Homo sapiens: one gene and its partners. The protein of the gene in region 1 purifies or fractionates together with the protein of each later gene. This does not show direct contact. Each region holds a gene or a part of one and is shown in the gene's direction. Other genes may lie near its edges.

Region 1 (3,500 bases):
GAAATGCTTTTTTTAAAAAAGAGTAGAGAGGTGCCAAACAGGAATCAAGAAATTCTGCTTTCTCTTGTCTTCAGAACATGTGATAAAGCTCAGTCAATGAGATATGCCTTCCTGGTGAAGGAGATACTCAGGGGATGAGACATGATGAGTCTCTCATTTGGTGTCATGCCATAGTGTGCCCGCCCTACAGGGTACCCCGGGTCCTGTGAGAGGCTAACATTCAGGTGGGGGGTGACAATGAGTTACTGAGACAGCAACAATCGACACTTTACTTGAGGCAGCTGAATATTGGAAAAGAAGCCTCTTAACTGCAAAACCGAATTGAGTCAAATGACATTTCTAAAGTGTGTCATTAGATGACTTTTTCTTAGAGCCCCTGAAACTCCTCCTCCAAAGAACAGTGTGTCCTACAGAAGCTCTAGAAGTATTCCTCTGCCCACTTGTTTGGGAAATATCTAAATTCCAAAGACAAGAAAATTACACTTTAAGAATCAGTTGAGCTGAATGTATTTTACATGTGATTTAATGACATCAAAGTGAGATCTGGTGAGAATGGTGGTCATAGGGACCACGTGTGAGATAGGAAGTGCTGAACCTCAAAGAGACAGTGTGAGATGTGTTGCAGGTGGCTGCTTTGCAAGGGTAGGTTCACTGGTTCACCAAGAACTGGACACAGGGCTCAGCACATTTCCCTGCATCTCTCATCTGCCACTCGTAGATAACAGGGTGTCTTATTCTCAGTTCATTAAAGAAGGAACAGAAATATCTACTAAAAAACTTCTTAGTGTCTTCACATCAACATTTTCTTAATAGAAAATCTGCAGCCTGTTTCTCCAAGGAGCTGGTGACTGCTGCCTGAGATCTGAGATGATAGAGCAAGTTGTGAACAGGATTCTTTACACGTTGAGGTGATACCCACGCCAATCTGTCACCAAAACAGTTTCCTTAAAACAATTCACACAGTTTTTCCTGTGAAAACAGTGGCTTGGGGAAGGCCGAATCATTTTCAATGACTGTGGCTGGCATACAGGTGAACCTGACAACCACCGTTTTTATGGAGAATCCTGATTCTTAACCACAGTGACATTAAATTTGTCATTATCTAGAATTGTACATTGTTTATACCTAACACGTGCAAAACACCATCCTAAGAGACATGGAATTTATCAATTTTGGTTCATTGACTTATTCTGACATGAGAATAAATGAAAGGAAATTAAAGTAGTGTCTTATGAACAGGACGGAGTAGGCCAGCTTCTCATAGCTCTGCCGGGAACTTCCTGCCCTGTGGCCTGTGTATCTGGTTCCCTCTGGGCCTCCTTCTCTCAGGGACCCCACCCTCTGGGCCCCCCTCCCTCCGGGACTCCTCCCTCTGGGACCACCCTCCCTCTGGACCCCCTCCCTTTGGGACCCCTCCTTCTGGGACCCCCATCCCTCTGGACCCCTTCTCTCTGGGCCCCCTCCCAACTCCTTCTGCCGACAGGGATCCATCACACAGGCGCCCCAGTGCTGGCCTTCTGTTCACCAAGAGTTACTCACTTTCTGGGGTGCATCTCGTGATGACTGCTAGCATGGAACCGTTATATAATTACTTGTTTACCTGGCAGCCTTTTGAAGCTCAAGTACGCGTTGAGTCATCGCTGCACTTCAGTGCCTCTCCTCCGTAGACAGTTCATAAACATTTGTTGAACTGAGTTCAACTTAAATTCAGAAAATACTGTGTGTCACGGTGCAGTTAAACAAATGCTTACCTTAAATGGGGGCCCGTTGGGCATCGAGTGCACGGCGTGCCGGGCCGTCCCTCCCTTTTTGGCCCCCGCTGCTCTTCCCATCGTCATCAACTCAGCCTCCACGTGATGGGGAGGTCACTCCCTCCCATCCGGTCCCAGCCCCACTCACCTGGGAACCCGTGCCGCTGGCCCCACCTTGGCCTAGCATCCGTCCAACCCTGCAGCGACCGCTCCCCACAGCCCCTGCTCCCTTGTTCTCCAGAGCCGCGCCCCTGCTGCAGGCCTCCCCCTCGCTGTCCCCAAGCCCCTGCCTTCCACCCACACTGCCCACTCCTTCCCACCGTCCCCGCCTCTGTCCTTATGGAGTCCTCAAAAGCTCTTCTTGCCCCAGAACCTCCCATTACCCCTCAGTGCTCAGCGGCAGATCCTTGCTGTGACTGTTTATGGCACTAAGTGTCTGTTCCAACACATTTGCGCGGAAGAGTACGCAGGTACTTTTAAATTAACTTTATTGAGGCTAATTTATATGCAATAAATGTCACCGATTGAAGGGTACAATTCAACAGGTCTTGACAAGGGCACCCAGCCATGTGCCACCCCCACAATCAGGATAGAGGACATTTCTGCCACCACAAAAGCCCCTTGTGTCGCCCAACCCCAGCCAATCCCTTCTTCCCGTCCTGATGACAATCCCTGATTTCATTCCTGCCACTGTTATTTTGCCTTTTCTAGAAATGTTAGGGGTGGAATGGTGCAGTGCATGGTCTCTTCTGCCTGGATTTCTTACCGAGCGAAGGTTTTGAGTCACCCCCGTTGGAGCATGCATTAGTCGCCCGTTCCTTTTCATGGTTGAGTAGTATATGCTGTTGCATGGATACACTTCAACTCGGGTATCTGCTCACCAGTTCACAGACATTTGGGTCTTTTTCAGTTTGGGACGGTTAAGAATAAACCTGCTGGGAATGTTCCAGTGTTAATCCTCCCATGTCTCTTGGGTAGACATGTAGGAGTCGGTTGCAGGTTCCCATGGTGGATGCATGTTCAGCTGTGCAAGAAAGGACCCCACTGTCTCCTTGGAGTGGCTGTGTGATCTTGCAGTCCCACCAACAAAGTGTGAGAGCCCCAGATGCACCATGTCCTCTCCCAGCTTCCAGCCCCCTGTTTAATCTTAGTCCTTCCAGTGGGATCTCTGTGTGTGTGTCTGTGTGTGTGTGTGTATGTGTGTGTGTGTTTTGGACGGAGTCTCTCTCTGTCACCCAGGCTGGACTGCAGTGGCGTAATCTCAGCTCATTGCAACCTCCGCCTCCCGGGTTCAACTGATTCTCCTGCCTCAGCCCCCCAAGTAGCTGGGATTACAGGAGCACGCCATCACGCCTGGCTAATTTTTGTATTTTTAGTAAAGATGGGGTTTCACCATGTTGGCCAGGATGGTCTCGAACTCCTGGACTTAAGTGGTCCGTCTGCCTCGGCCTCCCAAATTGCTGGGATTACAGGCCTGAGCCACTGTTCCCAGCCTTCATTGTGGTTTTAATTTGCATTTTCCTCATGATTAATGGCATTGAGCGTCTTTTTTGTGTGTGTATTTGCCATCCATGTATTTTCCTTGGTGAATTGCCTGTTCACATTTCCCCCTGTTTCTTATTGTTTATGTTTTTGATAGGGAGTTGTAAAAATTATTTGTATATTCTGGATATAACCTATTATCAGATATAAGCTTTAACATACTTTTTTCTATTCAATATATATATGTTTCACTTTCTTGAGTGTCTT
Region 2 (3,500 bases), on another chromosome or scaffold:
CTAGTCATTTTCCAGTCTTCATTTTTCTTGTCATAACAGCAGAACTTGACAGTTGGTCATTCTCTTTTCTTTGAAATGCTTTTGTGTCAGTAGGCTTCTGTTTGTTTGTTTATTTGTTTGTTGTGAGACAGTCTTGCTCTGTTGCCCAGGCTGGAGTATAGTGGCATGATCGCAGCTCACTACAACCTCCGCCTCTTGGGTTCAAGCAATTTTCATGCCTCAGCCACCCAAGTAGCTGCGATGACAGGCATGTGCCATCACGCCCAGTCTTTTGTCAGTAGGTTTCTATAATACCACAATTTCCTGGCCTTTTCTCCACCTTGCTGGCTTTTCTCAGACTCTTTACTGGATCCTCCTCTTCTCCCCCTGCATCTAAATGTTGGCAAAAGATGTAAGTAATTTCATCTAGTTTCATGGCTTTAAATATTTGTTGGCTGATGATTCCTAAATTCGTATCTTTATTATAGGCCTTTCCTTTAACTCCAGACTAATCCAACTGTACTTGAATGTCTAAAAGGCATTGTGCACTTGACATGTTCAGAACAGCTCTTGACGTTGCCAACACTACTACTTGACCAGCCTGTCTTGCAGAAGTCTCCATCTCAGAAATGATGATACCTCTATTCTTCTAGTTGCTCAAAAAGCTTGAGTGTTGTCCTTTGACTCAACTTTTTGCCCTCCCACATCTTGTTTGCCAGAAAGTCCTGAGGCCTCTTTCGCCTAACCACCTGTACCCTCATCATTTTCATCCAAGCCACCACCATCTTTCTCTTTTTAACTACTCTCCCTGCTCTGTCCTTGCCCTGCCTTCCAACTCTGTATCAGCTCAACTAGAGCAATCCTTTTAAGCCATAGATCACATCATCACATTTGTATGCTTCACATTGTGGTTTTTCATCCCATTCAGAGTAAAAGTCCTAAAGTTCTTTCTTTGACTTGCAAAGTTTTTCATCATCCTTGAACATTTCCACTCCCTTGTCCTCCTTAGTTTTCCTATCCTTACTTCAAATCCTCCCACTCTCCCTGAGGGACATTCTGCGTCAGGGCTGTGGCACTTGCTGATCACCCCTCCGGAATAGTTTTCCTGCAGACGTCCTCATGGCTAGCTCCTGCTTAGGAGGCATCTTATCTAAAATTTAAATCTCCCCTTCAACATTTCATATCCTCTATCCCTGCTTTACTTTTTCTCCTTTGTACGTGTATCTCAACCTATTAACACCATTTTACTTATTTATCGTGTTCATTGTCTTCCCCACTAAGATGTCAGCTCTGGGAGGACAGGCATTTTTGTCTTATTTTATATACTGCTGGAAATTTAGTTTATATATAGTTAGTATTTCCTTACATCTGTAACACTAGAAAGTTACAGATACAAGAAGAATGAGTCTTTACAGAAAGGATTTATAGTTTAATGAAGAAGAAAAGTCATAACTACAGTTATTTTGATATGTGTTATGATAGAGTTTTGCACCATGTTTGTGGAACTACAGAGAGGCTGGCTAAAAAGTTGGGGAATAGAAAGTTTTTCCATCAAAAAAATCCGAGCTGAGTCCTAAAGAATGGAGTTTATTAGAAGCAAGGGGAAGGGTCGTATGAGGAAGCTGAATGATTTATAACATCATTCCTTTGAACAGTAAGTCTATAGCTAGGACTATATTCTGAGGAAATAACATGACTACTCCTGATAAAACAAGCAAACAAAAATAAAACCTCACTACGTGGTTCTTTGCAGTAGTATTTATAATGTCACAATTATATTGGAAACACTCTAAATGTTCAAGAGAAAGGGAAGAAACTGTCCACATATATTTTGTGAGATTTTAATGACCCAGAAATTGGGTATTTTCTAATGTTAAGTAGGAAAAAATGGATCCATATTGTCGTCAGGTAGGTGTTGGCCATATCCTGACAGTCGCACAACATGCCATACCAAAAAGATGAGAGTTTATCTTGTAAACTTTGGAGAGCCATGAAAAAGTTTAAGCAGTAGAATGACATGATCACATTTTTGTTTCAGAAAGACTTTGGCTCTATGGAGGAAGACTTTTATTGATTTAAAGCCATTCAATAAGATATCAACAGTACCAGAAGTTTTAGTTTGAGATACCTATAGGATAACCAGGTGGAAGTATCTAGTTGTAGAGGACTTTGGGTGGTGCTGTTTATCAATCAGTATCAAAGCATTTTTATGTAATATTTTAAACAAATATGGCCATACCGGTAGGTGTTGGTTGGCTCTTAGCTGTGGTTATGACAAACAGTGTGGGTGTTGACATTCAGGTTAGAATTAAATGTGGCAAAGCCATAGTTCCTATTCTAGTTGGTATGTATACATATCTAGAGGGCATATTTCTGTAAAACATGCTGCATATTGTTTATGCTTAAGTATTTAAGGAAAGTCATAATGAAAAATCTTTGTAACAATAAAAACTTGGAAGGAGGAGAAAGGATAGAGTAAAATAGTCTTACTAGAACCATATGTAGGAAGCTGTCAGTTTGAAGGGCCAGATAGTAGATGGTTTAGGCTTTGGGGACCATATGGTTTCTGTCACAGTTTTTCAACTCTGCTGTGGTAGTGTGTGGTTCCTGGGACAGCGCCTCTGCTGTTGTAGCACAAAAGCTGCCATAGACAATGTGTAAATGAATAGGCATGGCCAGATTCAGCATGGTTTGCCAACCCTTAGACCATTAGTTGATTTGATAAAGTGATTTTGTGAATGGTTTGGACAAGAAAATAATCTTTACTAGCTATTATATACCATTACCATAGACTTTTAAACAGAATTTATGATAGCATGCTGTAGTTCTTAAATATGACCTTTAAGAGATTGCTAAAATATACCATAGCACTGTCAGAGCATGGTGGTTAGATTAATTGTACCCATTATTTAATAACAAATAATGATGTTTCTTCCTAGACAGGAAGAAGTATGAATTAAGAATTATGTGACTTAACACTAGATTTCTCCTCCCTAAACCCAAATCACCAAGATACTGTTTTGGAGCAAAACGTAGTGTCCCAGAGGGTAGCATATCAGTGTCATCTTTCTGTAGATAATGACTGCAAATTTGAATTATGTTTGCAGAAAAGTGAAAGTAAAAATTGGAAGTAGCAATTCCTTCACAATTTTAGATTAGGTTTGGGTGGAAAGAATGTATGCCTATAATGATGCAAATGTATTTCTTCCACAAATCTTATTTACTTAGACAAATTAAAGGAATTTAATTTTTATATTTTGAATCTACAGATTATTCTTAGATGTAATAGTATGTGGTATGCTTTAGAAATTAAGTATATAAACTTTTCTTTTCTTTTTTTTTTGAGACGGAGTTTTGCTCTTGTTGCCCAGGACGGAGTACAGTGGCGCAATCTTGGCTCACCGCAACCTCCGCCTCCTGGGTTCAAGCAGTTCTCCTGCCTCAGCCTCCTGAGTAGCTGGGATTACAGGCATGCACCACCATGCCCAGCTGATTTTGTATTTTTAATAGAGACGGAGTTA
Region 3 (3,500 bases), on another chromosome or scaffold:
CTTTCAGATTTGGGTAAACAGTTATTTACATGTTTCTAATGGAATCTTAAATTGGTTTGGTAATTTGAAGAATTTTTCACAATATTTGAATCTTTAATTCTACATTGAGAATTATATTTAAGAAAATAACACAAATATATTCAGAATTATTTTACATTCATATTGATAATTTAGCATTTAATGTTCATTAGGTTGTTTAGTAAAAAAACATAAAATTTACTTTTTAAAAAAATTAAGGACAGTGATTATTATTCTAAACTGCCTCAGAAAATGGAAAGTTGATTTGTAGTAGCACAGAAGAGGGGAGGGAATATGCTATATGACACATAAAGATTCTCTTTGTCAGTTAGCTATGAGATGCAAAATAGCATCTACTTACTAAGGAACTTTTGTACTTTGTAGAATATCTTTGATATTTAGTTGACCCTTGGTTCTCAGAAAATAAGTGGCTTGTAATTTGACCTTTTGCTCTATCATGTTTTCTTTTTTATAATCTGCTTGACTTTGATGAGTGTTTTTCCAATGTTTCATTTGTTTTTGCAAGGTTATTTTGCCATCCTTTCCTTCCATGATGTGATTCTTCAGGCCAAGAAGAAAAAGATGTGTCTGTAGCTAAAATTACCTCATCCTTGGTGTTTTTCAGCCTAGGATCACTATATGTAGCTAATGCCGTTACATTACAACTAAGACAAGTTCCAATACTTTTTTTTTTCTCCTCGATCTGCAGAGATTCACCAACAATAGCAAATTACACACTGGCTTGGAAAGTACTCCCATGTTCCGTTTGATCTTGGCAATTTAATGGTATCTTCTTTTACAGTTTTATTTAAATGTTTCATATTGCTTCGTTTTTCTTCCTTAAGTATTTGTAAGTTCATCAGCTCTGTGATGAACTTACAGAGAACTCGATATTCTTTATAGTACCCCAGCACCCAGTTATGCATGTGATGTGTGCACAAAACATTTTTATTGAGTGGATAAAACATAACCTTTTTGATTGATTCAGGGAACTAAAATAAAATGTTTCTTTAATAAGTACAAATTTTCTGAAGCACAGATGAAATTTAACTTCATATGATTCTGCCAAATGTGATAGAATACATGTTTCCTGCTCAATATGGTAATAGTCAAGAGAGCCAGAATACCAAAGTAAGAAGAAAAAAAAAATCACAAATATTTGAATAATTTAAATCAATTCAGCAACATCTAAATAATTATAACTGATTTAAATAATTAAAAATCCGTTATTGGCAATGATTGTCATATGTACAACCAAGAGTTGCACGACTTATATTTTCTTTTTGTAGGATTTGACTTGGCTGAACGCTAACTCTTTTTAGGACTGATTTAATTATTTATTTGTTCTTTGGTCCTGTGCTAATTTTTATGAGCTTATTATGCAGTTAAATTCATTATAGTTTATTTGTCCCAATTACTTATTATACTTGAACTTTTTCTTTTTGCTTAGATGTACTTTATTACATATTTGATTTCAGTATTATGTCACATTATTAAATAGTGCTTATTGTTACCACCACAAATGAAAGTAAAGTTGTGAGTTATATAATAATTAAAAATATATGTTTCATCTACTTGTGATCATCAAAATATGTGAAAATACATATGAATGCATTAAGATTTACCCCAATTTAATTTTGTTCTCTCTTTCAGCTGTTCTTGAAGACTAATTAGTTACACTGGATATGCTGCTGTTCTTTACTTTGGGATTGCTTATACATTTTGTGTTCTTCGCCTCCATCTTTGACATTTATTTTACATCTCCTTTGGTTCATGGAATGACTCCTCAGTTTACACCATTGCCTCCTCCAGCGAGAAGATTAGTGTTGTTTGTTGCTGATGGCCTTCGAGCAGATGCACTTTACGAATTAGATGAAAATGGAAACTCTAGAGCACCGTTTATTAGGTAAGCATGTAAACTGATACAGAGACATCTCTTAAAATGTTATTCTGAGTTAAGTAAACTGCAAAATATCTTACTATTTATCATGCACTGGGCACAGGGGTGATGATGAGAAAGAGAATAGGGCACTTGTACATTTGCCTTTGTCTTATGGGTCAGCACTAGATGCTACTTTATTTCCTCCTAGGTGTTATTTCTGGTATTGTTGAAGCTGATAACCGGTGAATTGAAATGGATAGGCTTAGCTGCTTAAGCTAAATTGTCCTAATTTCCCAAACTTGGCTCAAGACTCACTATATTATTTTTTTCTTAAAAAATAAGTCTGCTGGCTGGGCACAGTGGCTCACGCCTGTAATCCCAGCACTTTGGGAGGCTGAGGCACAGGGATCACCTGAGGTCAGGAGTTTGAGACCAGCCTGACCAACATGGAGAAACCCCGTTTCTACTAAAAATACAAAAAATTAGCTGGGGGTGGTGGCACATGCCTGTAATCCTAGCTACCTGGGAGGCTGAGGCAGGAGAACCTGCGAGGCAGAGGTTGCAGTGAGCCGAGATGGTGCCATTGCACTCCAGCTTGGGCAACAAGAGCAAAACTCCGTCTCAAAAAAAAAAACAAAAAAAAAGTCTGCTAATTTTACAAAATAAAGACAAGCATAAATATTAATGAATTACTAATTTCAATGATGTTTAAGTACAAAATATAGACTTCAAATTAAAACACAACCTTCTGTAAAAGAATATAGAGCCCTTTCACTTCTATATCACTGTTTAACATAACTTTGGCTTCTGTTAAGTTGCTTTAAAAAGAAATATTTAATTTCTTGGACTTACAAAGGGCCTACAAACAATTGCTCTTTTTCTGATTAGTGGCAACTCCTGAAAGGCCTTGTAATGCTGTTATGGAGAGATTAAAATAGAATTCAAGAGGAAATTTATCTAAAATGTTGTGTCTTCCCCCATCTCCATCTGTCATCATTACCTCCTATCATTTTACTCTGTTTTCTTTTTCTTTTTCTTTTTTTTGAGACGGAGTCTCGCTCTGTCACCCAGGCTGGAGTGCAGTGGCGTGATCTCAGCTCACTGCCAGCTCAGCCTCCCAGGTTCACGCCATTCTCCTGCCTCAGCCTCCCGAGTAGCTGGGACTACAGGCGCCCGCCACCACACCCGGCTAATTTTTTGTATTTTTGGTAGAGACGGGATTTCACCGTGTTAGCCAGGATGGTCTTGATCTCCTGACCTCATGATCCACCTGCCTTAGCCTCCCAAGTGCTGGGATTACAGGCGTGAGCCACCGTGCCTGGCCTGTTTTATTTTTCTTTATAGTACTTCCATCATGAAAGTTCCATGAGACTGGGGACTTATCCACCACTTTATCTCCAGTTCCTATAACATAATGGGCAATTAACAAATATTTGTTGACAGCTAGAAGAATGGATGAACTCTAATGCTGTGTTGAATTTTCAGAACTAAATTTACGATAGCTCAGAGAGATGCATAACATATTGAAGGATAAAAATAAAGAAAAGAGAGACTCAAGTCAATAGACGAACATTGTGGGAAAATAAGATCAAACCAAGGT
Region 4 (2,793 bases), on another chromosome or scaffold:
TTAACGATACCCCCAGGCTCCTGGCAAAAGCTAATAAAGGGCCCATGGGAGGCTAACCCCCTCTCTGTTTTTATACATATTTTGCCTACACTTGAACACAAATGTTTTCACTAACAGGTACATGCATATTTGTGATAGTGAATTTTCAATTCAGAGAGTGAATTCTGAGTAAGAATTTTTGCAAGTCATTATAGCAGATATTCAGATGGAGTTCAGACAGCCAGGGATACCTGTATATATGATAACAAAAAGTGAAAAAGACATGAGAAAGCACCATAAGATGAACAAAGATAGCAAAACCCAGTCTGTCCTCAAGTTGCAGAATATGTGATGAAGATAAAACAAGTACCCAAGTTAGCACATTATTAGTAAATTATAAATTACTTCAAATTAAATGCCGTAAGAATAGAAGGGCTAGAGGGGGTGGAGCAAGATAATTGAAGAGTAGAACTGAAATGAGAGGACAGGAGAGAAGGGAAGGTTTCTATTTTAGTGGGGAACAAATTTGGAGAACAGCAAAAAAACGGCAAGAACAAAGTTCTGCATAGCAGGAGAATATTGGCAAGCGTTTGCATGGACATGTGTTCTCAGTTCTCTTGGGTACATATCTAGGAGTGGAATTGCTAGGTCATATGGTAACTCTATGTTTAACTTTTTGAGGAGCTGTCAAACTGTTTTCTGTGGCAGCTGAACCATTTTACATTCCCACTAACAATCTCTTGGGGAGAGAAGGTTCCAGTACACCAAAGAAGTGTAACATTGATTAAAATATTCTAATACATAGTTCAATTCAGATTTCTCTTGTCTGAAAGATTCACCATATAGCTTTTTTAATAAAGTTTTATGGAAATATAATTTATATAGCATAAAGTTTACTCATTTAAAGTATACAATTCAGTGACTTTTAATATATTTACCAAATTGTGTAGCTGGCACCACGATCTAATTTTAGAACATTTTCCTGATCCCAACTTCTGTAGCTGTTTAAAAAATATTTCAAGATTAATCAAAGATTGATACTATATTTAGTTGATGTGATTCTTTGGTCTCCTTTAATCTGGAACTGTTCCCTGCCTTTTTCTTCCTTGCTTGACATTTGTATTTTTGAAGCTTCTAGGCCAGATATCTTTTAGAATGCCCCATACAATGCATTTCTTTAATCATTATTTATCATAGTTAAATTCAGGTTAAACGTCTTGGCCAGGAAAAAGGTAGTCTCAATGTAGGAGACATTGAAGAGGCATTTGAGATTTTTAAGCACCATCGTGCACTAGGCCCGGTAACGAAAAAAAAAAAAAAAGATTTTAAATCAAGCTACGTGTCCAGGGGTATGCTCTAGAAAAATTACCATGGCAATAATATTTAATTTGAGGGCAGGGAAGCTGGTTAGGCCTTTGCTGTAATACAGAAAAGTGAAAAGAGGGAATGGAAGAAATAGTAACCTATATGTTGCCATTGGCCGTTTTTTTGTTTTTGTGGGTGTGCTTTTATAGAGAGGCAAGACTTGCTATATTGCACAAGCTGGACTTGAATTCCTGGGCTTAAGCCGTCCTCCTGAGTAGCTGGATGGCATTATTATTTATATAGAACCAGAACTAAGTATCTTGAGAGTCAGAGACCTTCCACTGAAACAAAATTTCTGAGACCGGACACAGTGGCTCATGCCTGTAATCCCAGCACTTTGGGAGGCTGAGGTGGGCGGATCACTTGAGATCAGGAGTTCAAGACCAGCCTGGCTAACATGGTGAAACATCATCTCACTAAAAATACAAAAAAATTAGCCAGGCGTGGTGGTGCACGTCTGTAATCCCAGCTACTTGGGAGGCTGAGGCAGAAGAATTGCTTGAACCCGGAAGGCGGGGGTTGCAGTGAGCCAAGATCGTGCCACTGCACTCCCGCCTGGGCAACAGAACAAGACTCCATCCACCCCGCCTCCCCCACCACCCCAAAAAAATTTCTGTATTGACTATGAAAATGGGAGGTAGAAATGTGTATGGTCAAATAAAAGAATAAGTGCTCCCACAACAGAATATTCATGGAAATATTAAATAGCTAGCTTTTATAAGAGCCTTAACCATCAAACGTGACCAGGAAATGGGATCAGATGCAAGTGGTACCCCCTTGTCTTCCCACTCCTGCTCCTGCTGACTAGTTAACAAGGAAGGAAAGAAAACTAACAGTCATCAATTCACGTGTCAAGAAAGTACCTTGCTTATTTTCAGGTCCCACTAAAAGCAGTTATCAATATAAAACTGTACCAGGAATGGTTGTCAAGGTACATCTCTGAATCATTAAAGAATATTGAGGCTTTTCTTGGCCGGGCGCCGTGGCTCACACCTGTAATCTCAGGACTTTGGGAGGCCAAGGCGGGTGAATTGCTTGAGGTCAGGAGTTCAAGACCAGCCTGGCCAACATGGCAAAACCCTGTCTCTACTAAAAATACAAAAAATTAGCTGGGCATAGTGGTGCACGCCTGCAGTCTCAGTTACTTGGGAGGCTGAGGCACGAGAATCACTTGAGCGTGGGAGGCAGAGGTTGCAGTGAACCAAGATTGTACCACTGCACTCCAGGCTGGGTGACAGAGCAAGACGCTGTCTCAAAAGAATATTGAGGCTTTTCCCCTCATTATTCCAGTGTTCAAATAGGGTGAAAACTATGTGGATGGTTTTATTTGCGCCTAGGTCCTCTGTGTTAGAGTACTCAAGTCCTGCTCTGTGTGCACTTCCTTTCACTTGTTTTTATTTCCTCATAGTGCTCTACGGAAACGTATTCGAGAGGACAGAAAGGCCACCA
Region 5 (3,500 bases), on another chromosome or scaffold:
TAATGACAGGAGCTCTTGGGGCGTCGTCATGAGGATTACCTTGACTTAATTCAGGAGACGTGCTTAGAACAGTGCCAAGCACAGGGTGAGACCACAGTGCCAGCTGTGGGGATCATTGGTATGTTCTCCTGGGTGAGGACAAGTAGAGTGAGGGCTGCAGGCCCACTCAGCCGGGACAGCACTTCCTGGGACATAATCTTGGGGGCCTCAGCTGGCCTGGATCCTTGTGCCAGCTCTCAGTGGGGACTAGCCTCTCCCCACATGCAGGGCCACTTGCTGTGGCCGCTCCCTTGGCCCAGACTTTCTCTTCAGTCACAACAGGTGCAGCCTCTGGAAGGTCTTTTTCTGCCAGGGATGTGCCTGCCAGCTTGGGCTGGGAGAGCTGACTTCTGCTCCGGGTGGAGTGAGATGTTTTTATTGGAACCAGCCTTTAGCTGGCTTGGGGATTTCATTTCTCCTGGCATAGAGGTAGGAGGTGATTAATGCTGAATGGGCACTTGCTTGGTGCCAGGTCCAGTGCTGAGTGCTTCATGCATGGCACTCTATGTAATCACAGCTCAGCTGTGCAGAGCTGCCATCCTTATTCTTGCTTTACAGACAACCATCTGAGGCTCAGAGAGGCTGACCAACTTGCCTGAGGTTGCACAGCAGGGAGTGGTGGTCTGAGGATTTGACCTTGGGTCTGTTCCATTGCAAGACAAATGCCCTTTGAACTACATTGCAGAAAGACAGTTCTAGGTCCCAAAACCTGGTGGCTTAAGGGGCACTGTGGGGACTCTGAAAGGTGTCTGGCTACCAGGACGTGTACTGCAGCCCTGGTTGAGCCCTCCAGTCCCAGCTCCCTGCTTCAGCTGGCTGGCAAAGCTTTGCATGGTCCAGCCTGTGCCGCCCTTTCATCCTCATGCTCTGCACTCTCTCTGTTCCAGGCTTGTTGGCCTCCGCACCTGCTGCTGAAATACAAGCTTGTTTCTGCGTGGGGCCTTTGCATGGGTCGTCTGGCTTCTTTCTGTTTCCATGTTTCAGATGAAATATCCTCTCTACAAAGAGCCCTTTCATGACCTGCCAACCTAGAGCTGCCCCTCCCCACTTTCCCCCTATTTCTCCATTTCCAGGTTGCACAGCACCTTTCCATCCAGTGCTCACTCTCTGTCTCTCCACTGGAATGTGTTCCACCTGAGCAAGGGCTGCCTTGCTTTTGCTCACCCTGTCTCTCCAGTGCCCAGGACAATGCCAGGCACATACCAGCCATCAGGAGGGTTACCAACTACTTCCTACAGGAGCAGGGAGGGGAGGCAGGGAGGGGCTCGGCTAAGGGGAGAGCTCCAGGCAGGTTGTGAGGTGTGGGTGCTCTCCTTGCTAAGGGCAGGGCCAGCTGAGCTGGACGGGGTGGCTCCTAGGGTGGGTGCGAAGGTTGGTTGAGGTGCAGGGACTTTCACAGAATCATGCTTGGTCTCTGGGACTTTAAGGGCCATCTTTTCCAGCCTAGCACCTGCATTTGGGGACACGAAGATGAAGAAAGTGGAGGCCAGTTGTCAAGGAAGGACCTTTCCTCCCAGTGCCTAGTCACTACCCTGATATCCCACCAAGAGGCAGCCCAGCCTTGGCTTCCATACCTCTCTAGTGACAGGGGGTTCACTACCCTCTAGGCAGCCATGCCACACTTTGACAGCTCTGACTTGAAAGTGTACAGCCTCTCCCTGCCCCAGGGTGACCCACATAATAAACTGCCTCCGTCTCCTGACAGGGCCCCTTCCTGTCGTCTGAGCAGGGCCTGGGCGATGACGGCAGCTCCTCTTTCCTGCTTGCTTCCCTCAGTTCAAGTGCTGTGGCGGGGAGGACTACCGAGATTGGAGCAAGAATCAGTACCACGACTGCAGTGCCCCTGGACCCCTGGCCTGTGGGGTGCCCTACACCTGCTGCATCAGGAACACGGTAGACACTGCTCCTGTGGGGACTGGGGGGCTGTCGGGGACCCCAGGTGGTATAAATGTTCTCTTTTCTCTCTTCCCAACTTGAAGATGGGTGGTGTGGGTGGATGGCAGGGAAGTAGGAGTTGGTGGCAGAGCGGAGGCTTTCCTGATTCTCAAGGGCTCCTGAAAGTGGAGCTTCTGGGGGTCGGGGGTAGGGAGACCATGTCTTTCTTAGTGGTGTTGGTTAAAATCTATTGAGCACCTACCTTGTGCAGGCCTGCTCTGGGCACTTTGGTGGTATTTACTCATTTAGTATTCACGACAACCCTGTGAGGTATGTACTGTTATTTTACCCACTTTACAGATGAGGAAATTGAGGCACTCAAAGGCTGGGTGTCTTGCCCAAGGTTGGCAGGGCTGGGATGAAGTGCAGGCAGCTGTTGCCTGAGCTACACTCTGGAGAACTGTGCAGGCCAGGTGAGGGCAGGAGGGAGAGGTGCCCAGGCCAGGGGAGCTTAGCGGGGGTAGCTGGCTCTGCAGCATTAGTGGAGGCAGGCAGGACCTGCACCTTGGGCATCTCCATTGGTCTTTGGCCTTGAGGTCCTGGTGATCATCAGCAGCAGAGTGCTTGGAAGGGGGTCTGGTGACGTAAATGCCATCCTCTTCCTCTCCCCAGCACGATCCTCTCGGGTCTGTCACCTTGGTCATTTGGGATGATGTCTTGTGTTGTCAGCGCTTAAGTGAAAGGCTTCATCAGTCCTTGTGTTTGACAAATGTGTCCAGAAACTGTTTCAGGATTGGAACGAGGTGGAGAGCTTTGCAATTACTCATGGCCCAGATAGTCATGGAAAGTTTTTCTCCTGACATTGCCACCATTCTGTGCCCACTGCTGGATTCTGTAAACTGAGCAGCTGCGGGTGGGGGCCTCGCCCATGAGTCAGAGAGCCAGTGCCAAGTGCACTAGCTCTAAAAAAGGCCGGGCCAGGAGGGAAGCTTTGTTTGGAAGTGTTAGCTGCCATTTTAGGGTAGTTCTCTGGGAAGTGGGGTGCTGAGGAGTAGCAGAGTTTCCAGAGAGGCCTGCGTGGGGTGATCCTGAACCTCATCACCCAGGGCAGCAGCATCTGAATACCTAAGCTGAGATGTGGAAGCCAAACTTGTATTCATTCATTCATTCATTCATTCAACAAATATTGGCTGAGAACCTACTCTATGCCAGACACATTTCCAGGTTCTGGGGGTGTAGCAAACAAAGTCTCTGCCCGCAAGGAGGTGACATCCTAGTGGAGAAAACTGACAAACAAAATAAGTAAAAGATAGAGGATCATAAATGCTGAGTAGAAAAAGAAAGTAGGGCATGGAGGATTGCAGTTTGGGATACTGAGAAAGGCGGGATCTGGGTGAAGCTCTGAAGAAAGTGAGGAAGGTGTCTGGGGGAGGGGCATTCCTGGCAGCAAGAACAGCTGTGCAAAGGCCCCAGGTGGGAATCACCCCAGGGCGTTTGAGAAATGCACAGAGTGGCTGGAGCAGAGGGAGCACAGCGGAGGATGGTAGGAGGTGGAGTCAGGGAGGTCATGGGTACCCCGAAGGCCA
Region 6 (3,500 bases), on another chromosome or scaffold:
TGTGCGCAGGCGAGTGTAAACTGCACGGGCGCGTGTGCTCACCGTGTGCGCAGGCGAGTGTAAACAGTGCACGGGTGCGTGTGCTCACTGTGCGCAGGCGTCTGTAAACAGTGCACGGGCGTGTGTGTGCTCACTGCGCAGGCGAGTGTAAACTGCACGGGCGCGTGTGTGCTCACTGTGTGCGCAGGCGAGCGTAAACTGCACGGGCACGTGTGCTCACTGCGCAGGCGAGCGTAAACAGTGCACGGGCGCGTGTGTGCTCACTGTGTGCGCAGGCGAGTGTAAACTGCACGGGCACGTGTGCTTACTGTGCACAGGCGAGTGTAAACAGTGCACGGGCGCGTGTGCTCACTGTGTGCGCAGGCGAGTGTAAGTGCACGGGCGTGTGTGCTCACTGCGCAGGCGAGTGTAAACTGCACAGGCGCGTGTGTGCTCACTGTGCGCAGGCGAGTGTAAACTGCACGGGCGCGTGTGTGCTCACTGCGCAGGCGAGTTTAAACAGTGCACGGGCGCGTGTGTGCTCACTGTGTGCGCAGGCGAGTGTAAGTGCACGAGCGCGTGTGTGCTCACTGCGCAGGCGTCTGTAAACAGTGCATGGGCATGTGTGCTGTGTGTGTGCAGGCGACCGTAAACAGTGCACGGACGCGTGTGTGCTCACCGTGTGCGCAGGCGAGTGTAAACAGTGCACGGGTGTGTGTGCTCACTGTGCAGGCGAGTGTAAACTGCACAGGCGCGTGTGCTCACCGTGTGCGCAGGCGAGTGTAAACAGTGCACGGGCGCGTGTGCTCACCGTGTGCGCAGGCGTGTAAACTGCACGGGCGCGTGTGCTCACTGCGCAGGCGAGTGTAAACAGTGCACGGGCGCGTGTGTGCTCACTGTGCGCAGGCGAGTTTAAACAGCGCACGGGCGCGTGTGTGCTCACTGCGCAGGCGAGTGTAAACTGCACGGGCGCGTGTGCTCACTGCGCAGGCGAGCGTAAACAGTGCACGGGCGCGCGTGTGCTCACCGTGCGCGCAGGCGAGCGTAAACAGTGCACGGGCGCGCGTGTGCTCACCGTGCGCGCAGGCGAGCGTAAACAGTGCACGGGCGCGCGTGTGCTCACCGTGCGCGCAGGCGAGCGTAAACAGTGCACGGGCGCGCGTGTGCTCACCGTGCGCGCAGGCGAGCGTAAACAGTGCACGGGCGCGCGTGTGCTCACCGTGCGCGCAGGCGAGCGTAAGCAGTGCACGGGCGCGCGTGCTCACCGTGTGCGCAGGCGAGTGTAAACAGTGCACGGGCGTGTGTGTTCACCGTGTGCGCAGGCGAGTGTAAACACAGCTGGTGCCCTGGTGCGTGTGTGCTGTGAGCACAGGTGTCTGTAAATGATGTAAACCTCCCTTGACGTCAGGCCCAAAAGCCTGCCTTGCCCTAAGGTCAAGAGGTGTATCTGGCTGATGCCAGCGTCTGGGTGAGGAAAGAGCAGGTTCCACAAGGGCGACTCCTGTGAGGGTGTTGGCCTGAGCGCGCATGCGGGGAGGGGTCGGGGTGGGGGCGGCGCGCCGCAGTAACTCAGGGCCCCATCCCGCTCCCGTCTGTCCAGCGGTCCTAGACCCCCATGTCCTGAAGCGCACCTGTGCCCACCTGGCCCCGGGGAGCGCAGGTGTGGAGATGGGGTGTCGTGCCTGGGGGTTCCTTCCCCACGCGCTGCCCCACCAGGATTTCCCTGGGGTGGGGAGGGCTGCTGAGACAGGGCGCTGCCCTCCTCCAGGGTGACTGAGATGCAGTTTACAACCATGATCTCCTGGCCGGGCGTGGTGGCTCACGGCTGTAATCCCAGCTCTTTGGGAGGCCGAAGTGGGCGGATCACGAGGTCAGGAGATCAAGACCATCCTGGCTAGCACGGTGAAACCCCGTCTCTACTAAAAATACAAAAAAAAAATACTAGCCGGGCGTGGTGGCGGGCGCCTGTAGTCCCAGCTACTCGGGAGGCTGAGGCAGGAGAATGGCGTGAACCCAGGAGGCGGAGCTTGCAGTGAGCCCAGTTCACGCCACTGCATTCCAGCCTGGGCGACAGAGCGAGACTCCATCTCAAAAAAATAAAATAAATAAACAACCATGATCTCCCGTTTCAAGTTGCCACCACTAACTGTAGCCCCGCTGACGGGGGCACTGGCCTTGCAGACTGTCCAGGACGGCCGGCAGTTTCTAAAGTATGTTGACCCCAAGCTGGGAGTCCCACTGCCAGAGAGAGACTACGGGGGAAACTGCCTCATCTACGACCCAGACAATGAGACTGACCCCTTTCACAACATCTGGGTAAGACGCCGGGGGCCCTGAGGCGAGCCCCTCCCCAGGTGTGGCCCCGTGCCGGACCAGGCGCCATCCACGCTCCTGCCTCGCACCCCTCAGCCCACACTTGGGGTCTCCTGGTGCAGAGATGTGCTGAGGCCCTGTCCGTCTGGATGGTGCTCATGGTGGGCAGGGGGCCCCTGCTCTCTAGGCTGTCGTGGACGTGGTCTCCACAGGCCACGGCAGCACCTGTGAGTCCCTGGCCTTCTTCCCGGGGTCTGGCAGGTGCTGCTCAGGTGTGGGCTGATCTGCCGGTGTGGGGAGTGGGGGTGGCTGTGCCCCAGGGTCAAGGGTCATACCCTGTCGCCCACAGGACAAGTTGGATGGCTTTGTTCCCGCGCACTTTCTTGGCTGGTACCTGAAGGTACGGCACCTCCTCTTCCCGGCCTCCCCGCCCCGGTTCTGAGGCCTGCCGTGGGCTCTGGACCGTTTCTGTCCATGGAGTTGAGCTCAGGGTGCTCTGAGTGTGGTGGGAGGGTGTCGCACTGCAGCCACCCAGAGGTTCGAGAAGCCGTGGGGCTCCCGGACCTCCCAGAAGCCCTGATCCTGGTCGGGTCCCCGCTCCGTCCTCAGGGTCGGGGCGGTGGAAAGAGGCGGCAGGGCAGGAAGTCCCGCCCCTGCCTGGGCTTGGGCACTGCCCCATCCCACTTCTGAGGGACCCTGTGCTACCTATGGGGCTAAGAGCAGTGCCTGCTTGACCCTGCAGCCCACCCTGGCAGAGTTTGGTGTCAGGCCCCGGGCACGGGGATGCTGCCTTGTTTGCTGACAGTCGTACATCGAGGCTGCTGGAGGGGCAGCCACCCACCCCACGCTCACCCTGAGACCTCACTGGGGGCCCTGCCAGTGCTGTCGACTCCAAGAATGCTGCCAGCCGGGGTGGGGGCTGCACGCACCCGTGGGCAGGGCCGGGCGTGGCCTGCGTCCCATACTCTGGCTGCCAGCCGGGTGGGGGCTGCACGCACCCGTGGGCAGGGCCGGGCGTGGCCGGCGTCCCATACTCTGGCTGCCAGCCGGGGTGGGGGCTGCACGCACCCGTGGGCAGGGCCGGGTGTGGCCGGCGTCCCATACTCTGGCTGACCCTGGCGCCCACAGACCCTGATGATCCGAGACTGGTGGATGTGCATGATCATCAGCGTGATGTTCGAGTTCCTGGAGTACAGCCTGGAGCACCA
Region 7 (3,500 bases), on another chromosome or scaffold:
CAGTTTAGAGCAATGGTGCTTATTTGAAACCAGGACTTCTGTATGGGCTTCTCCTTGCAATATTAAAGAATATGGACTTGTGTCTTTACTCACTAAATGGAAATGTTGGTTGTTGTTGTTGTTGTTTTTTTCCTCTAGAGATGGCAGATCCTGAGGTAGTTGTGAGTAGCTGCAGCTCTCATGAAGAGGAAAATCGCTGCAATTTTAACCAGCAAACATCTCCATCTGAGGAGCTTCTATTAGAAGACCAGATGAGGCGAAAACTCAAATTTTTTTTCATGAATCCCTGTGAGAAGTTCTGGGCTCGAGGTAGAAAACCATGGAAACTTGCCATACAAATTCTAAAAATTGCAATGGTGACTATCCAGGTAAGCATCTCAGATCATGAGTTTGGTGAAAGCCTCTTTTAATTACAAAGATAACTATGGACAGTGGTTTTTTTTTTAAATAACTTTTAACTATATGCAAAATGTTGAAGAGTAACAGATAAGAAAACATACAATCTTAGACCCTTCTGTCTTCAACATTTGTGAAAGAGTTTGTCTTCTTTTTTCTTAGTTTTTTTCTTGTATCGTTCGCTAAGTTATAATTTTAGTCACATAATCTAATTAATTTTCAGGAAAAGAAAACTAATATTTGGCTTCCAATGAAGAGGTTCAGCTGGTTTCTAAATAAGCCATGGAAACTAGTGTTGTCCAACATTAGGACTTTCTTTTCCTTCCTAGTTAGTTTCCTGGGAATTTCTCTCTTCAGAAACTTAAAGGGTTCCTGCTACAGGCAAATTCTTAGATTCTCACAACCCTGTGATCATGAGAACCATGCAATGGAAGAATGTGAAGTTAACTAACAGAAGAGGAGTGGCAGGAGCTAGTGAAACACAGGACCTCTTTTTAGTTCAAAGGGAGCTTTTAAATCACATTTCCTTGGCTGCTTTTAATATTTTTTTGGGGGAAAGGGGGAACCATATTTTGTGATTCTTAATATATACTGGTTGTGATTTATTCTTATGAAAATATGTTTTCCTGTTGGTCAAATTATCTCTTGCTAAAAGCAAAGGGCAAAATAGAAGCAGATTTTAGTGAGAAAAATAGATGTGATAGGTTTATTTTTATTATTACTTACTCTTCCTAAGTTGGTGAAAAATGCCTAAGTAAATAAACAATTGGTATTGAAGGAGAGATTAAAAAAAACAGGATATTACTAATTTTAACTGCTTATTGAGAACAAACACTTATGATTGTTAGGGAACCAAGGCAATTTTTACAATCATATGAAGTTGGTAGAATTCTTGCTTGTTTCTAATGCTAGGTGTTGTATCAAGGGAAACAAACATTTAGTGACTACCCTGTTCCAGTACATTATTTCATTTAATTCTAACATTCTTACTGGCTCATTTTACAGAAGAGGAAACTGATGTTTGTAGAGCTCTTTTAAAGTCACATGGCTTGGCCAGGCAGGGTGGCTCATGCCTGTAATTCCAGCACTTTGGGATGCTGAGGTGGGTGGATTGCTTGAGCTCAAGAGTTCCAGACCAGCCTGGGTAACATGGTGAAAACCTGTTTCTGTAAAACATACAAAAATAAGCCAGGTGTGGTGATCACACCACTGCACTCCAGCCTGGGTGACAGAGCGACACCTTGTCTCAAAAAAAAAAAAAAAGTCACATGGCTAGTCAGTGGCAATATCAAGACTTTGAAGGCAGGCATTCTCTCTATTATATTACCCTGAAAATGGATGTTCAGTTCTCAGCCAAATACTTGGCAAGTTGAAATTGAAATTCTTAACTTCTGAGTGATAATATGGTGTGTCTCAATAGTGAAAAGTTTAGTTTCTTATAAAGGAGAAAAGCCTGTATCAATTGAACATGAATATTTTCTACTTAGAATAATAATAGGTACCACTTGAGTGTTTGCTGTATACCAGGCTAAACATTTTATAGATGTCATCATGTTCAATTCTTTTTTTTTTTTTGAGATGGAGTCCCACTCTGTCACCCAGGCTAGAGTACAGTGGCGCCATCTCAGCTCACTGCAACCTCCGCCTCCCGGGTTCAAGCGATTCTCCTGCCTCAGCCTCCTCAGTAGCTGGGATTACAGGCACACACCACCATGCCCGGCTAATTTTTGTATTTTCAGTGGAGATGGGGTTTCACCATGTTGGCCAGGCTGCTCTTGAACTTCTGACCTCAGGTGATCCATCCACCTAGGCCTCCCAAAGTGCTGGGATTACAGGCGTGAGCTACAGTGCCCGGCCCATACTCAATTCTTAAAACAAGTTGGAGGGTAGGTAGTGGTATCCTCATTTCACAGAGGAGAACAATGAGGGTCTTGGTAAGGAAAAGGACCCTGTCATAGTCAGGAAACTAGAAGAGTAGAACTGATATTCAAACTCAGATTTATTTTCTCTAAGATTTATGTTCGTAATTACTTCTTAATTTTTAGGGAGCTCATCTACCTTCCTATGTTTACTAAGGTGGTCAAGGGAAAACTGAACAATGGTTTAAGATATTAAGGCTGCTAGTAATAAGCATGTAAAAGGTGTTTAGGTAAGTTTTTAAAAGGAACTGAGGGTTTCTTAATTGTGATGTTTCCTTAATTTATATCAGAGCAATCAAACAAATATTAGATAAAGACAGCTTTGTAATTGAGCAAATGAAGTGAGCAAATGGTGACAGATTATCTCAGGGAAAATGAGGTGGTCCTTCTGTTAAACTGGAGATTTTGTGTCTGCAGCAGCAAAAGAAAGATGTTTACAATGATAGACACCCTACTAAAAATTTCTCTTTTCCCACTACCTGGCTTACTCTCTGAATTACAGCAGTTTTCTCTCAGCCATTGTTATTCCTGTCTGCCACTAAACCTTTGAGGGCAGGGACCAATTGTCTTCTCATTGTATCCTCAGTCCCTAGCTCACTGCTGACACAGGAGAGGTACTCATGTATTTGAATGACTGGTAAGAATATCTTTGGGAATTCTTTGGGGCTGTTTGGTCATCAGCTTCAACAGATGCAAAATCCCTAGAATATCAAGATGTCATCTTATTGAGGACAATTAAAGAAGCTCTGCAGAAAAGAGAGTTAGGTGCAGAGTGATGATATGTGTGGGGTGCAGACCATATATCATATGTGGAAGGGAGAGGGGAAAAGATTTGTCTGCTGTATTTTTTCTGATCAAACCCTGGATTACTTTGTGTAGCATGACAGGGTGGATAGAACCTAGATTTAGTGTGTCAGACATGGGTTTCAGTTTTCACTGTATCAACACTGGCTAGTGATGTGACTTGAAAAAACTATGTAACTTCTCTGAGCCTCATCTCTAAAATTGGTGTATGAGGAATACACCGCAGGATTAGTATGAGGAAAGTTCCTGGAATAGTGTATGGCACATAGGTGCTCAACATTGTTCCCGCCTTCCATATAAAATATACTCTGCCTCACTCTGGGATTTAAGTAAGGGTGTAGTTTCTCAATTTACAGCATGTACAGCATGTGGTGTGTGTGT

The links.
Region 2: the proteins of CCR6 (region 1) and SLC39A10 purify together in Homo sapiens (affinity purification with mass spectrometry; one large-scale study listed by BioGRID and IntAct). This does not show direct contact.
Region 3: the proteins of CCR6 (region 1) and PIGN purify together in Homo sapiens (affinity purification with mass spectrometry; one large-scale study listed by BioGRID and IntAct). This does not show direct contact.
Region 4: the proteins of CCR6 (region 1) and PTPN2 purify together in Homo sapiens (co-immunoprecipitation; one large-scale study listed by IntAct). This does not show direct contact.
Region 5: the proteins of CCR6 (region 1) and TSPAN15 purify together in Homo sapiens (affinity purification with mass spectrometry; one large-scale study listed by BioGRID and IntAct). This does not show direct contact.
Region 6: the proteins of CCR6 (region 1) and PTDSS2 purify together in Homo sapiens (affinity purification with mass spectrometry; one large-scale study listed by BioGRID and IntAct). This does not show direct contact.
Region 7: the proteins of CCR6 (region 1) and MCOLN3 purify together in Homo sapiens (affinity purification with mass spectrometry; one large-scale study listed by BioGRID and IntAct). This does not show direct contact.

Annotation. Positions count from the first base shown.
Region 1 is NC_000006.12:167,129,596-167,133,095, forward strand, and holds part of CCR6 (C-C chemokine receptor type 6), read left to right. Parts: intron 1-3,500. UniProt on the Homo sapiens protein: Receptor for the C-C type chemokine CCL20. Binds to CCL20 and subsequently transduces a signal by increasing the intracellular calcium ion levels.
Region 2 is NC_000002.12:195,730,226-195,733,725, forward strand, and holds part of SLC39A10 (zinc transporter ZIP10 precursor), read left to right. Parts: intron 1-3,500. UniProt on the Homo sapiens protein: Zinc-influx transporter. When associated with SLC39A6, the heterodimer formed by SLC39A10 and SLC39A6 mediates cellular zinc uptake to trigger cells to undergo epithelial-to-mesenchymal transition (EMT).
Region 3 is NC_000018.10:62,159,557-62,163,056, reverse strand, and holds part of PIGN (GPI ethanolamine phosphate transferase 1), read left to right. Parts: intron 1-544; exon of another isoform or gene 545-727; 5' UTR 728-804; intron 805-1,671; 5' UTR 1,672-1,703; coding exon 1,704-1,924; intron 1,925-3,500.
Region 4 is NC_000018.10:12,794,445-12,797,237, reverse strand, and holds part of PTPN2 (tyrosine-protein phosphatase non-receptor type 2), read left to right. Parts: intron 1-2,752; coding exon 2,753-2,793. UniProt on the Homo sapiens protein: Non-receptor type tyrosine-specific phosphatase that dephosphorylates receptor protein tyrosine kinases including INSR, EGFR, CSF1R, PDGFR.
Region 5 is NC_000010.11:69,496,465-69,499,964, forward strand, and holds part of TSPAN15 (tetraspanin-15), read left to right. Parts: intron 1-1,744; coding exon of another isoform or gene 1,745-1,815; coding exon 1,816-1,932; intron 1,933-3,500. UniProt on the Homo sapiens protein: Part of TspanC8 subgroup, composed of 6 members that interact with the transmembrane metalloprotease ADAM10.
Region 6 is NC_000011.10:484,779-488,278, forward strand, and holds part of PTDSS2 (phosphatidylserine synthase 2), read left to right. Parts: intron 1-2,112; coding exon of another isoform or gene 2,113-2,160; coding exon 2,161-2,295; intron 2,296-2,641; coding exon 2,642-2,692; intron 2,693-3,420; coding exon 3,421-3,500. UniProt on the Homo sapiens protein: Catalyzes a base-exchange reaction in which the polar head group of phosphatidylethanolamine (PE) or phosphatidylcholine (PC) is replaced by L-serine. Catalyzes the conversion of phosphatatidylethanolamine and does not act on phosphatidylcholine.
Region 7 is NC_000001.11:85,042,001-85,045,500, reverse strand, and holds part of MCOLN3 (mucolipin-3), read left to right. Parts: intron 1-138; coding exon of another isoform or gene 139-140; coding exon 141-368; intron 369-3,500. UniProt on the Homo sapiens protein: Nonselective cation channel probably playing a role in the regulation of membrane trafficking events. Acts as a Ca(2+)-permeable cation channel with inwardly rectifying activity.